Regions from separate parts of the Homo sapiens genome. Here region 2 is linked to region 1. Evidence: fine-mapped expression QTL. A gene starts in region 1. The other region holds a variant in brackets. All regions are shown on one strand. Distances are between the middles of the regions.

Region 1 (5,387 bases):
TTTTGTATTCTGTTTACAGCAATATAATTTCATAAGAGTTCTTTGGTGAAAAGCAAATCGTGGTGTTAGAGAAAAAACAAAATTTCACTTCATTTTTTAGCTAACTTCAGACTCATCCATCTAGAAGAAACATACTCAAGGTATTCCGAAATAACAAAAACCTCAAACTGCATCACAGTTGGCATCTTGACATTTAATACATTGAAAATCACAACATATGAAGTGTCTAAGACAGTAAACACAGTAAATAATCATTCAATTCTTTATTCAAATATAAATAATATTCATGTTTAACCAATGTAGAAATTACAAATATATGTAATTACATATATGTAATGTATGTATGTGTATGTGTGTGTATATATATATTACATATCCCAGAAGAGTAGTACAGATTGTTTTCATCATGTGAAGAGCATGAAAATCCGAGAGTTCTATATATCTTTAAATTTCTCCCAGTGCCATTGTTTAATAGTTAAAACCTGCCATATTTAATACCTACCAATAATTTGAACTTATATACTTTTGCTAAATGCACAGGAAGGAATTTCAGATTGCCGATATCACACTCTCGTTGTGAAGAGGTTGTGTCAAGTTCTTCTAGTGAAGGGAGAATTTCAAAAGCAGGAAAAGTGTGGGAGAACAGTGGGGGAGGACTGTTAAGAAATCACTGCTTCATTTCTTCAACTGGGCAGCAACTTGTGCTAATGAAACTCAGGTGGACATTAGACTGCCAGCCCCAGGGTTTCCCTTGCAAGGCTACCCTCAGCTATGGCAATGGGGGCTCCTATAAGCCTCACAGAGAGGTGCTACTTTAAAGAGAAACTGAAAAAAGTAAATAGGATCATATTACAGTGGAGCTGCTGAAACCTACGGCTTTAGGGCAAAAATGAAGTTATTTCACTTCAACTACCTTTAAAAAGCACAGACATTCCGAATTACAAGCAATTCTACCGCAGGAGACATGGATGTAATGTTTATACCCATCTGTGAACCTATCTAATGATGCCCTGGTGCAAAGATGAATAGATTCAGTTAAGAAATGATTGGTTTCTCTCTTTTCTTTTCATGTCTTCAGTTCCACTAGTAGTTACTACTTACAGGCTTCCTTGTGTCTCACACAACAGGTTTTTTCCCCTCTTAAATGAGAGTTACCCTCAGAGTGTGCTTTCAATCTGGATGTTAGCCCCTAGAGCTTCGCTGCTATAAATTCGTGTCCAAGTCTGCCTTCGTAATTAAACATGCTTTAGTTCTAAAATCTAAGTGAGTTAAGTGATTTTGATGTCGTTGCCCAAGATTTTTGGTTTTGTTTTTCGTAACTCCACATTTCCAGGTTTGAGGACCACAGTACAAGTTCCCTAAACAAGCCATCTCCACCAGGGCTGAGACTTAAGTAGGTATCAATGAGCAAACCCAGACGCCAGCAAGTAATTCTTTGTTACAACTATTTTCAGCTGCACATTTTTTTAAAATGGTTTTGAAACTTCCTGACAAACAATTTCATTCACAGCATGAGAAATAATGTAATCATGAGACATAGCAAAGACAAAGTATAAATATTTCCCTTACCTGGATCATGGAAAGGCACCAACGCAAAGTTGAAAAGAGGTCTTTTAGGTCTTTTCAAAGACGTCTCCAAAATTTTGGAAGCCCCTTCAATCACCTGAACTAAATCATCATACATAGAACCAGTCACATCAAACACAAAAGCCAACGTGGAGGCCCCCTCGGGAATTTCCTCAGCTCTGATCTCTGACTGGGGGCTCGCATCTTGAGCTAGGGAAGAATAAAGAAGAGCAAACAGGAATACTGTATGGACAACTTCCCAGGAAATCATTTTCTTTTTTTTCCCCCTCTTTTTCCCCCTCAGCGCCTAAGCACTGTGCTCAGTCCTCCTCAACAACAGGCAGAGGGTTTCCTCTCAGAGTAACTCATCAGACTCTTGGAATCTCTGAACTAGCAAAAAGTTTGGCGCTGAGAATCAGACGGGGACAAGCACCAAACTCGAATCCCTCCAGGGGTTGGGCAGGGCAGGGATGCGGCAGCTTTTGTCTGGATGCGGCTTCCTCCTGGACTGCTATCTGCCCGCGGGCCCTGGACAGCCTGTGGCGGAGTGCGGGCGGCGCGTCGGGTCCATGCCCCGGGGGCAGCTCTGAGCCTGCGGCGCCGCGGCCCGAATCCCGCTGCCCTCGCCGCCGCCGCTGCTCTCCGCCTGGGCCAGCGACTGAGGTTCCCAACTTTCCACTGTTTGCAGCTCACGAGCGACGAGGGGAAGCCTGGCTCGGCCTCGCCTCCTGATTGGCCAGTTGCCGTCCTCCCTCCTTTGCTCTGGAGGCCCCCCCGGAGGGTGACTTTTCCCTCCACTGATTGTAGGGTCAATTCAGTCCCAGGGAAGCGCTTACGGTGTCAGCTCGGTTCCCACCGGCACCGTTCCTAACCTGCAAAACGCTAGTGTAAACAATGGCTTTCAAGAATGTGTGGCAAAGACCCAAACCGAGGGACACCACACTAGCACAAAGGGAATTTTGTTTTTCTATTGTGTACAACGCGGCTTTAGACACCTCTTTCCTAATTCCCCCCAAAAGTCAAGACGCCCCAGCCCAGCCTCCTGCCTCTCAGCCCACAACTCGGCCCAGCCAGGAGGGGGAGCTGGAAAATTCTCTCAGCTGCGAGGCAGCCACACTATCGCTCTTTGATCTCCTCTGAGACTCTGGACTGCAGGGAAGGAAGGGAGGACAACGCTGAAGGGGCAAGAAGCCCAGGAAGAGGAAAGGGGCTGCTGAGGGAAATGAGAGACAAGAACTAGGTAGTCACTAACTGTAGAGGGGAATGTGAATACAGGATGGAAGCCCCGTAGAAAGGACAAGGAGGAGGGGCGAGAGAGGTGTGGGGAAAGATGAGACATAAAATTCATATTAAAGAGAAAATTGATTTTTTAATTGTATTATCAAGATTCACATTTGCTGAGCAGTTTGAATCCTACGCTCAGCATAGTAAGGCAGAATAATATCCCCGTTTCAGATTTCCTCCCCTGGAACAGTCATGCCTCAGGTCTCAGCCAAAGATCTATTGGAAAGGTGCTCCCCTCTATGGCATTTTCTTGCCAGTCAAGAAGGAAACCTCACCCTGGAAGACATGCCAACGTTTTTCCGTGTTGTGATTGCTATATACGTTATAGTACTAATAACAGAGATAAGAGGATAAGCAAAGAAAGTCTACCATGAACTAAGGATTCTTTATGTCATTTTAATAAAAACGCATTTCCTTCCTGGAAAAGGAGTTGTTGTCCAGATCCCAGCATTTAAAGAGGGGCAAACAGGCATCTTGATCTCTGTTTGGATGTATATTAGACCGCCCACCCAACGGAGATGCAGCCTGAGGAAGAGTTAGCTCCCACCAACCTTTTGTAATCTACAACTGTCTTCTCTTTCAGTCCCAGCGGCTGTGGAACCCGAGTTTATGATACCTATAAGTCATGTCACTTAAAGGAAGCAGACAGGCCATTTGGGCTGAGTGGGAATATGAGAGGAAAGGGGGAAGGTACTTCCTTCTCAAGCAGTATTTAGAGAATGCTATTTGAGTCTCCCATTCCGTTGTTTATTTAAAAAGGATTTCATTCTAAGTCTTAGAGACCTGAGCTATTCCAGGTGCTCAAGGGAGGCCACAGAGCCTAGTGATTAAGAGTTCTGGGTCAGATACCCTGGGTTGAAAGCCCAGCTGTGACATTTAACTGTGTGACCTTCAAGAAGGTTACCAAACTTTTTCAGACCTGTGTTTACTCAGCTGTAAATGGGAATAATGATAGCACCCACCTAATAAGGATTAAATGATCTATAAATGTTCCATGTGCACTTGAAAAGAATGCTGTTGGGTGGAATGTTCTATAAATGTTAATTAGGTCAAGTTGTTTAATAATGTTCCAATCTTCTATATCCTTACTGATTTCTGCCTATTTGTTCTATCAGTTTTTGAGAGTGGTATTGAAATATCTGACGACAATTGTGGATTTGTGTATTTCTTCTTGCAGTTCTATGAGTTTTAGCTTCATGTATTTGAAGCTCTGTGGTTAGTTACATAAGCACATAGGATTATTATGTCCTTTTGACATAATGGACATGAATTGACGCCTTTATCATTATGAAGTTGCCTTCATTGTCCCTGGTAGTATTATTTGTTCCAAAATATACTTTGTCTGATATTAACACTGCAACTTTCTTTTGATTAGTGTTGCATGGTGTATCATTTTCTATCCTTTCACCTTTAACTTATTTTTTTCTTTATATTTAAAGTATATTTTAGGTAGTCACCCTAAAATTGGGTCTTGCTTTTTCATCCAGGCTAATAATCTCTGCCTTTTCATTTGTGCTCTTAGATGTTTTACACTCAATGTGATTATGGATATGGTTGAGTTTAAATCTGCCACCATGCTATGTGTTTTCTATTTCTTCCATCTATTCTTTGTTCCTTTTTTTTTTTTTTGCCTTCTTTTTGAATATTTTATGATTCCATTTTATTTCCATTGCTAGCTTATTAGCTAAAACTCTTTTAGTGGTTGCTTTACAGTTTATAGTATACATCTTTAATTTACCAGCCTTTCTTCATGTAGTGTTATACCACTTCATGTATAAGAACCTTAGATTAGTATACTTCCATTTCTCCCCTCCTGACTTTTTTACTATTTTTGTCATCCATTTTTATTGCATATTACTATATTTTAAATCCCACATTATATTGATTTTTTTGCATAAGGAGTCAGTTATCTTTTAATGAATCTAAATAAGAAAAATGTAGCATATTTACCCAGGTAGTTACCATTTTTTGTGCTGTTCATTTCTTTGTGTAGATCCAGATTCCCATCTGATATCACTTTCCTTCTCACTAAGAGACTTTCTTTAATAATTTCAGTAATGCAGTTCGACTAGAGACAAATTCTTTCACTTTTGTATGTCTGGAAAAGTTTTTATTTCACTTTTGTTTTTCAAAGAGTTTTTTCTTTTTTTTTTTGCTGAGTAAAGAATTCTAGGTAGACAGGTTTTTTGTTTTTCTTTCAGTACTTTCATTTGTCTTCTTGCTTGTATTGTTTCCAATAAAAAGATAATCTCTATCATCTTTGTACTTACTTGTTCTATATAAACCATGTATGTTTTTAAGAGTTTTTTTATTGTTACTGTTTTTGAGCAGTTTGATTATGATGTGCATTGATGTGGCTGCCCTCATATTTCTTGTACTTCTTCCATCTGTTTTCATCAAATTTGGACATTTGGGGCCATTATTTTTTCTGTCTTCAACCTCCTTTCCTTTAGGGGCCCCAATTAACACATATATGAAGCTACTTAAAGTTCTTCCACAGTTCACTGATGCTCTCTTAATTTTAAAAAAATTATTTT
Region 2 (5,387 bases), 34 kb before region 1:
ATATGACAGTCCTACCTTTAACTAATAGTCTGGTGACCACAAACACTGCCTTAATAAGGCCCTGCACTTAAATGTCAATTTTATTTTTGTTTCCTGCCCAGTCAGTTGGAATCAAATGATAGTTCCAGCTAAATGACTGCTCCATAGAGGAAGCAAGTGAATATTAGTAATGGGAATGTAAAAAGTATAAATGCTGAAAAAGATTAAGGCATATTCTCACACTGCCATAACTTAGAAACAGTTTATTGGGCTGAAGAGACATTACTTCTCCCCTGCCCCTCACCCTATTTACAAGTGCAAAAAAAAGATCAGGTTTCTCAGAAACTCCTGTTTGCATTTAGGTAGTCTAAGATGGAGATACTGCATTATAAAACAAAAGCTCCATTTTTCTTCAGGACAAGAAAATCATAGCTAGCCATATGCCATCTTTGTATTTTTCAATAGAATCTGGATCTTTTTCTTTATGTGTTCCTTTTCTCTTTTTTAAAAAACATTTATACAGCACACTTTATATTTTCTATATTGCAACTACCCAATTGTGGTCTTCAATGCTTTATCTAAAGTTAAAAGCTAAATTATTTACTTTTTGCTAAGAATAGCTTTAATATATACTCTCTCTGAAAAAGTCTAAATCCTTGTTCATTCCTCTCTTCAGTATTCATCACAAACACAGCTCCTTTCAAGCTTCACATTACCCTTTCAGTCCTTTCTCTATAGAGAGTGGTGATGTTTTTGAGGTTTGGTGGAATCAGTCTCTTGTAGTTCATTCTCCGCATTATAAAATGTACTAGAACTCACTTCCCTACTGTAGAAGATTGCAAAAATAGCTGGAACTGTCTATATGCATACCCTCTGAAATGTAACTTTGCCTCCTATCAAGAGGCAAAGTCTCCCCTCCCTTTGACTCTGGACTGGTCATGTTACTTGTTTTGACCAACAGAATATGGTGAAAGTGATGGTATGCCAGTTCCAAGAATAGACTTAAGAGGGTTTTCACACTTCCCTTGCTCTCTTAGAACCCTGCCAGCCACTATATAAAAAAGCCTAAGCTAGCATCTGTGATGATGGGAGCCCACAAGAAATGGAGTAAGTAATCCCAGCTGAGGTCATCCTAGAGCCAGGGCTTACCTGACTCAGCAGCTTATCACACAGGCATCAGTAAGACCAGACAAGACCAAAAGAACTGCCCAGCTGAGTTCAGCCCAAATTTTGACTAACAGAATCCGGAGCCATATGAAATGGTGGTTGTCTTAAAAAACCACCATTTAAGTTTTGGAATAATTTGTTACACAGCAAAAGCTAACTAATATAGTTGCCCATATACATTTTTAACAACCCAAACTCTTCTCTACCCTGCCATTTTTCTTTTTATATGATAGGCAAAATATTTCTCATCAATTAGGCTTTCTTTTTATCCAAACATATATTATAACATCTTTTCTTTCTTTTTTTGAGACAGGGTTTCACTCTGTCACCCAGGCTGGTATGCAGTGGCACAGTCATGGCTCACTGCACCTTGACCTCCTGGGCTTAAGCAGTCTTCCCATCTCAGCCTTCTGAGTAGCTGGGGCAACAGGTGCATGCCATCATGCTCAGCTAATTTTTTCATTTTTTTTAAAGATGAAGTCCTGACATGTTACTCAGGCTGGTCTTAAGCTCCTGGGCTCCAGTGATCCTCTCACCTCAGCCTTCCGAAGTGCTGGGATTACAGGTGTGAGCCACTGCACCTGGCCTATTATAAAGTCTTACAATGCAACACAAAAAGTCTCCCTATTCCCAAAGTATTTGGAAAGGGGATTCTTGGCCAAAATCATATTAAAGAAGGTATTGTATAAAATGTCCCTCAAATCAAATATTTAAAATTCTATTAATTCATACAACTGTCATATAATGTAGAAACAAATATTTTCATATTCCTTTTAGGATTTTAACCTGCTATGTACCAGATATTTTGTAAATTATATCTCTTTTCGTCTTTTCTACTAGAAGATAGGCTTAATGAGGTTAAATATTTTGTTCAAGGTCAAAAAGTGAGTAACAGATATGATACTTAACTTCATGTCTTCTGATTCCAGGCCCATTCTTTTATTATTATTATTAATACAATTTTAAATAAATAGAGATGGGGTCCTACTATGTTGCCCAGGCTAGTCTTGAACTCCTGTGTTCAAGTGATCCTCCCACCTTGGCCTCCCAAAGTGCTAGGATCACAGGCGTGAGCCGCCACACCCAGCCAAACCATACTGGCCATCTTGACTTTGAGAGTGTGTGATTAACTTGCCCTAAATTCCTTATGCCTTAGATATACTAAGTTTTGTATCAACTTGTAGAACACATTCCTTAAGTGTATTTGTTTACTCATTCATTCACGTGGCAGATGCAGCATAAGGGTATGCACTCTCTTGATCATTCAGTCTTGGGGTTTACCTACCTTTTGTTTCTGCTTTTTCTCTTCTCAGAGGACATGACAATGGATTAAGCCAACTTCTCCCACCTGTTTTTACATGCTTTCCTGTCAAACAAATCATCCCTCTCCTCTAAAAATTCTTACTTTTTTCCAGCCCATCATCTAATCTATGACTGAAATACACAGAGGAGGAAAAAGATAAAATGCAAATCAAAACATGAAAATATTCATTAAATGTAAGAAGCCAACTTACTGTCACCTATGAGAGTCATCCTGGCCCTTGGTTATACCAATTGTAAGTTTTCTGAACGAAGTGGGCTTCTTTCTCAATATTTTGACATGATAGGTGTTTAGTAAACGTATGGTGAGGAATAATAATAATGCAAAAAGTAGAAACTATATTTCCCTCTCTGGCTTCATGTTGCATTCAAAGGAATTATCCTTTATGGCAGTTAACTTGAACTTCATGTTTTTTCCTTGTTAAGGGCTATTAACATTAATATTGCACCACAGAGGGGATTTTTGTTTTTCTTCTGATAGCCATCTTTCAACAAGTCTGGCTGCAAGTAAATGAGATCAGCATTTCAAGAGCCAACTATTGTGTGGCTTATTGCCTATACTTGCTAAACTTTTCATTCCCCATAGTTTGCCTCTGTTTCTATCACTGACTTTATCTTGTAATGAAAATTAATGCCCTGATTTAAATGAGTGATATGAAATATGATCTATTATGCCTGCTGGCAAACAGTGTGTTTCACCTCATTACCACATTCTTAAAGAATAATTAGCATCTCTAGGGATGAATTGGATATTACATA[A/T]CCAACATTTGCAGATACCTTTATTCACAGTTAAAACACAGTGCTTCTCTCCTTTCCACACACTAAGCCTCAGTTATAAGTTTTACGAATCTTGAACATTAAAATTATTCTCTGGGGAATACAGATTGTGTTACTGTTAAATCAGCTGCATGCTAGTGGAACCCAGAAACTTTCTACTTGCATACTTGTAAAATTGTCACTATTGTCTTATCTTTGCATTGCTTCCAAAGTTACTTATTCCCTTTAAACACTTTAATTGAAGTTGATAAGTAAAATGGAAAGCTGATACCATTTAACTGAAATATTTACTCTCAAAATTCACAAGTGTTCATGATATATTCAGATAATTGAGATCAATATCATGCCTTTGCTCAATTATTGGAGAGCTCACAAATCACTAAATCAATCTCTCAGTTGGATGCGGACACTGAAATATAAACTTAATGTAAGTTTACTGTACTTTAAATTACCTTTATATATCGACAATCTAGAATGTAAATATTAACTGAAGCATGTTATTCACTAATTTGAATCTGAAATTAACTGCATAAAGTACATTTCACAAAATCTACTCTTATCAAAAAATAAACAAGGTTATTCAGAGCACGAAACACATTAAGCCTTTGTTATCAGCCCCTTGGTTTAATTCCTTTTTTTTTTTTAATGATTTCTCTGAATTCTATTTTTTCCTCAAATCTGCTAGGATTTTAGTTTCCTATTCCCTTAAAACATTTTGAAGCTTGCCTTACTTCTTTAAAGAGAGGGTTTTGTTTTATAATCTGTCTGACAATTATGAAACCTTAAGTTGTGTGGTTCTATTTCGGTGGTTGGTTGTTTCTGCTGGTTCTTATCCTGGGTTCCTAGATTCCTTGTATGCTTGCTTAAATTTGACCGTGATTTGCCCAAGTTATTCATGGAACTATTTGGGAATTCTCGGAGGCTTAGGACTAGCATTTCCTTCTACCACACACACACAAAAGCACCACCTGTTCAGAACAACCTTAAACTAAATTCACACCTAGCTCTGTTTTAACTGCCTAGGTAAGGTGTATTTAAGCAATGAGTCCTTGAGAACACCAGTGATTGGCTAAAACTTCTCAAAGATCTGTTTATTTCATTTGGTTTGATTTTGGGGCCATCTTCTGCTAAGCACTAAAATGACTACTCGTGCAGTTTCCTGAGACGGCCAGAAGAGTTTACTTGTGGTTCACCATTATCCTGAGCTTTAGCCCTTGGGATCTCAGCTTTATTCAGGGAGAATGTCCCCTCTTAAACTCCCTACCATGGGTAGGCCTTGGGCTCAAGTTGGCTGGGTTATGCAACTGGCTAATGTCCTCAGACAGAAGCAGCTTCAGCATTCCCCCAGTCTCTGAGTTCTCATTTTCTTCTGAGATTTTGGCCAGGCAATTCCTTGTTATTTTTCAGCATTCTCATGCTTTTCAGATTATACAGGTATTCATCAAAAACATTTTTGCTGTTTTCAGTGGCAGGGTTGGTCTGACTATCCTGGTTTACCATGTTTCCAGATATAGAACTTTGCTTTGGTTTAATAAGCTTCATTAAAGCGAACATATTCCAGTTGTCTAATGTGTTTGTTTTAATTATATATTTTAATTGCATATCACAAAGATAACTCAAGCTACCTTAAATACCTGGAGGTAGTCATAAGGATATGGGTACACAGAACCCCAGGAGTAGCTGAACAATCCAGACCACAGGAAGAAGAGGAGCTTTTTACAATGGACCACATATTGATAAGAAGATCCAGAACAGCAGGAGACTGGCCTTTGCTCTACCTTAAGAGTTCTCCAACTTAAGCAAAAATAAGGATCACATAGATTAGAACACAGATTGCTGGGCCCCATCCAGTTTCTTAAGTAAAGCCTGATAACTTGCATTTATACTAAGTTCCCAGTTAATGCTGATGCTGCTAGTCCAGGGACCACCTTTTGAGAACCATTGCCCTACTGCATTATTGTTCAAGAATGAAGTCTCAAGTTAAATTACTCAGATTCTGGTCCTAATTACCCATCTACTGGATATATGAACTCAGACATGTTATCATGCCTCCTTATGCCTTGGTTTCCTCATCTTGGTGACCTAATCTGTGAAACAGGGATACTGGTGGTACTTACCTCAAGAGTTTTGCTGAGAATATTAAA

Alleles and levels. Alleles are on the strand shown, and positions count from the first base shown. SD is a standard deviation of normalised expression in the study named.
With allele A in place of T in region 2, the expression in sun-exposed skin of the gene that starts at base 2,226 in region 1 is higher (small effect, 0.25 SD a copy in GTEx).

Evidence for each region. PIP is the estimated chance that this variant, and not a neighbour inherited with it, causes the effect.
Region 2: its variant is the best candidate, but not a certain one, in a credible set for the expression of HMCN1 in sun-exposed skin (GTEx, PIP 0.66).

Annotation. Positions count from the first base shown.
Region 1 is chr1:185,731,230-185,736,616 of GRCh38, reverse strand. It overlaps HMCN1 (hemicentin 1), which reads right to left and starts at 2,226. Exons shown (of 107, transcript NM_031935.3): 1 at 1,570-2,226. The coding sequence starts at 1,837.
Region 2 is chr1:185,765,512-185,770,898 of GRCh38, reverse strand. All of the region lies in intron 1 of HMCN1 (hemicentin 1), which reads right to left. Among named protein-coding and RNA genes, the nearest start is that of HMCN1, 34 kb to the right of the region's middle. The variant A/T (reference allele first, on the strand shown) is at 3,226.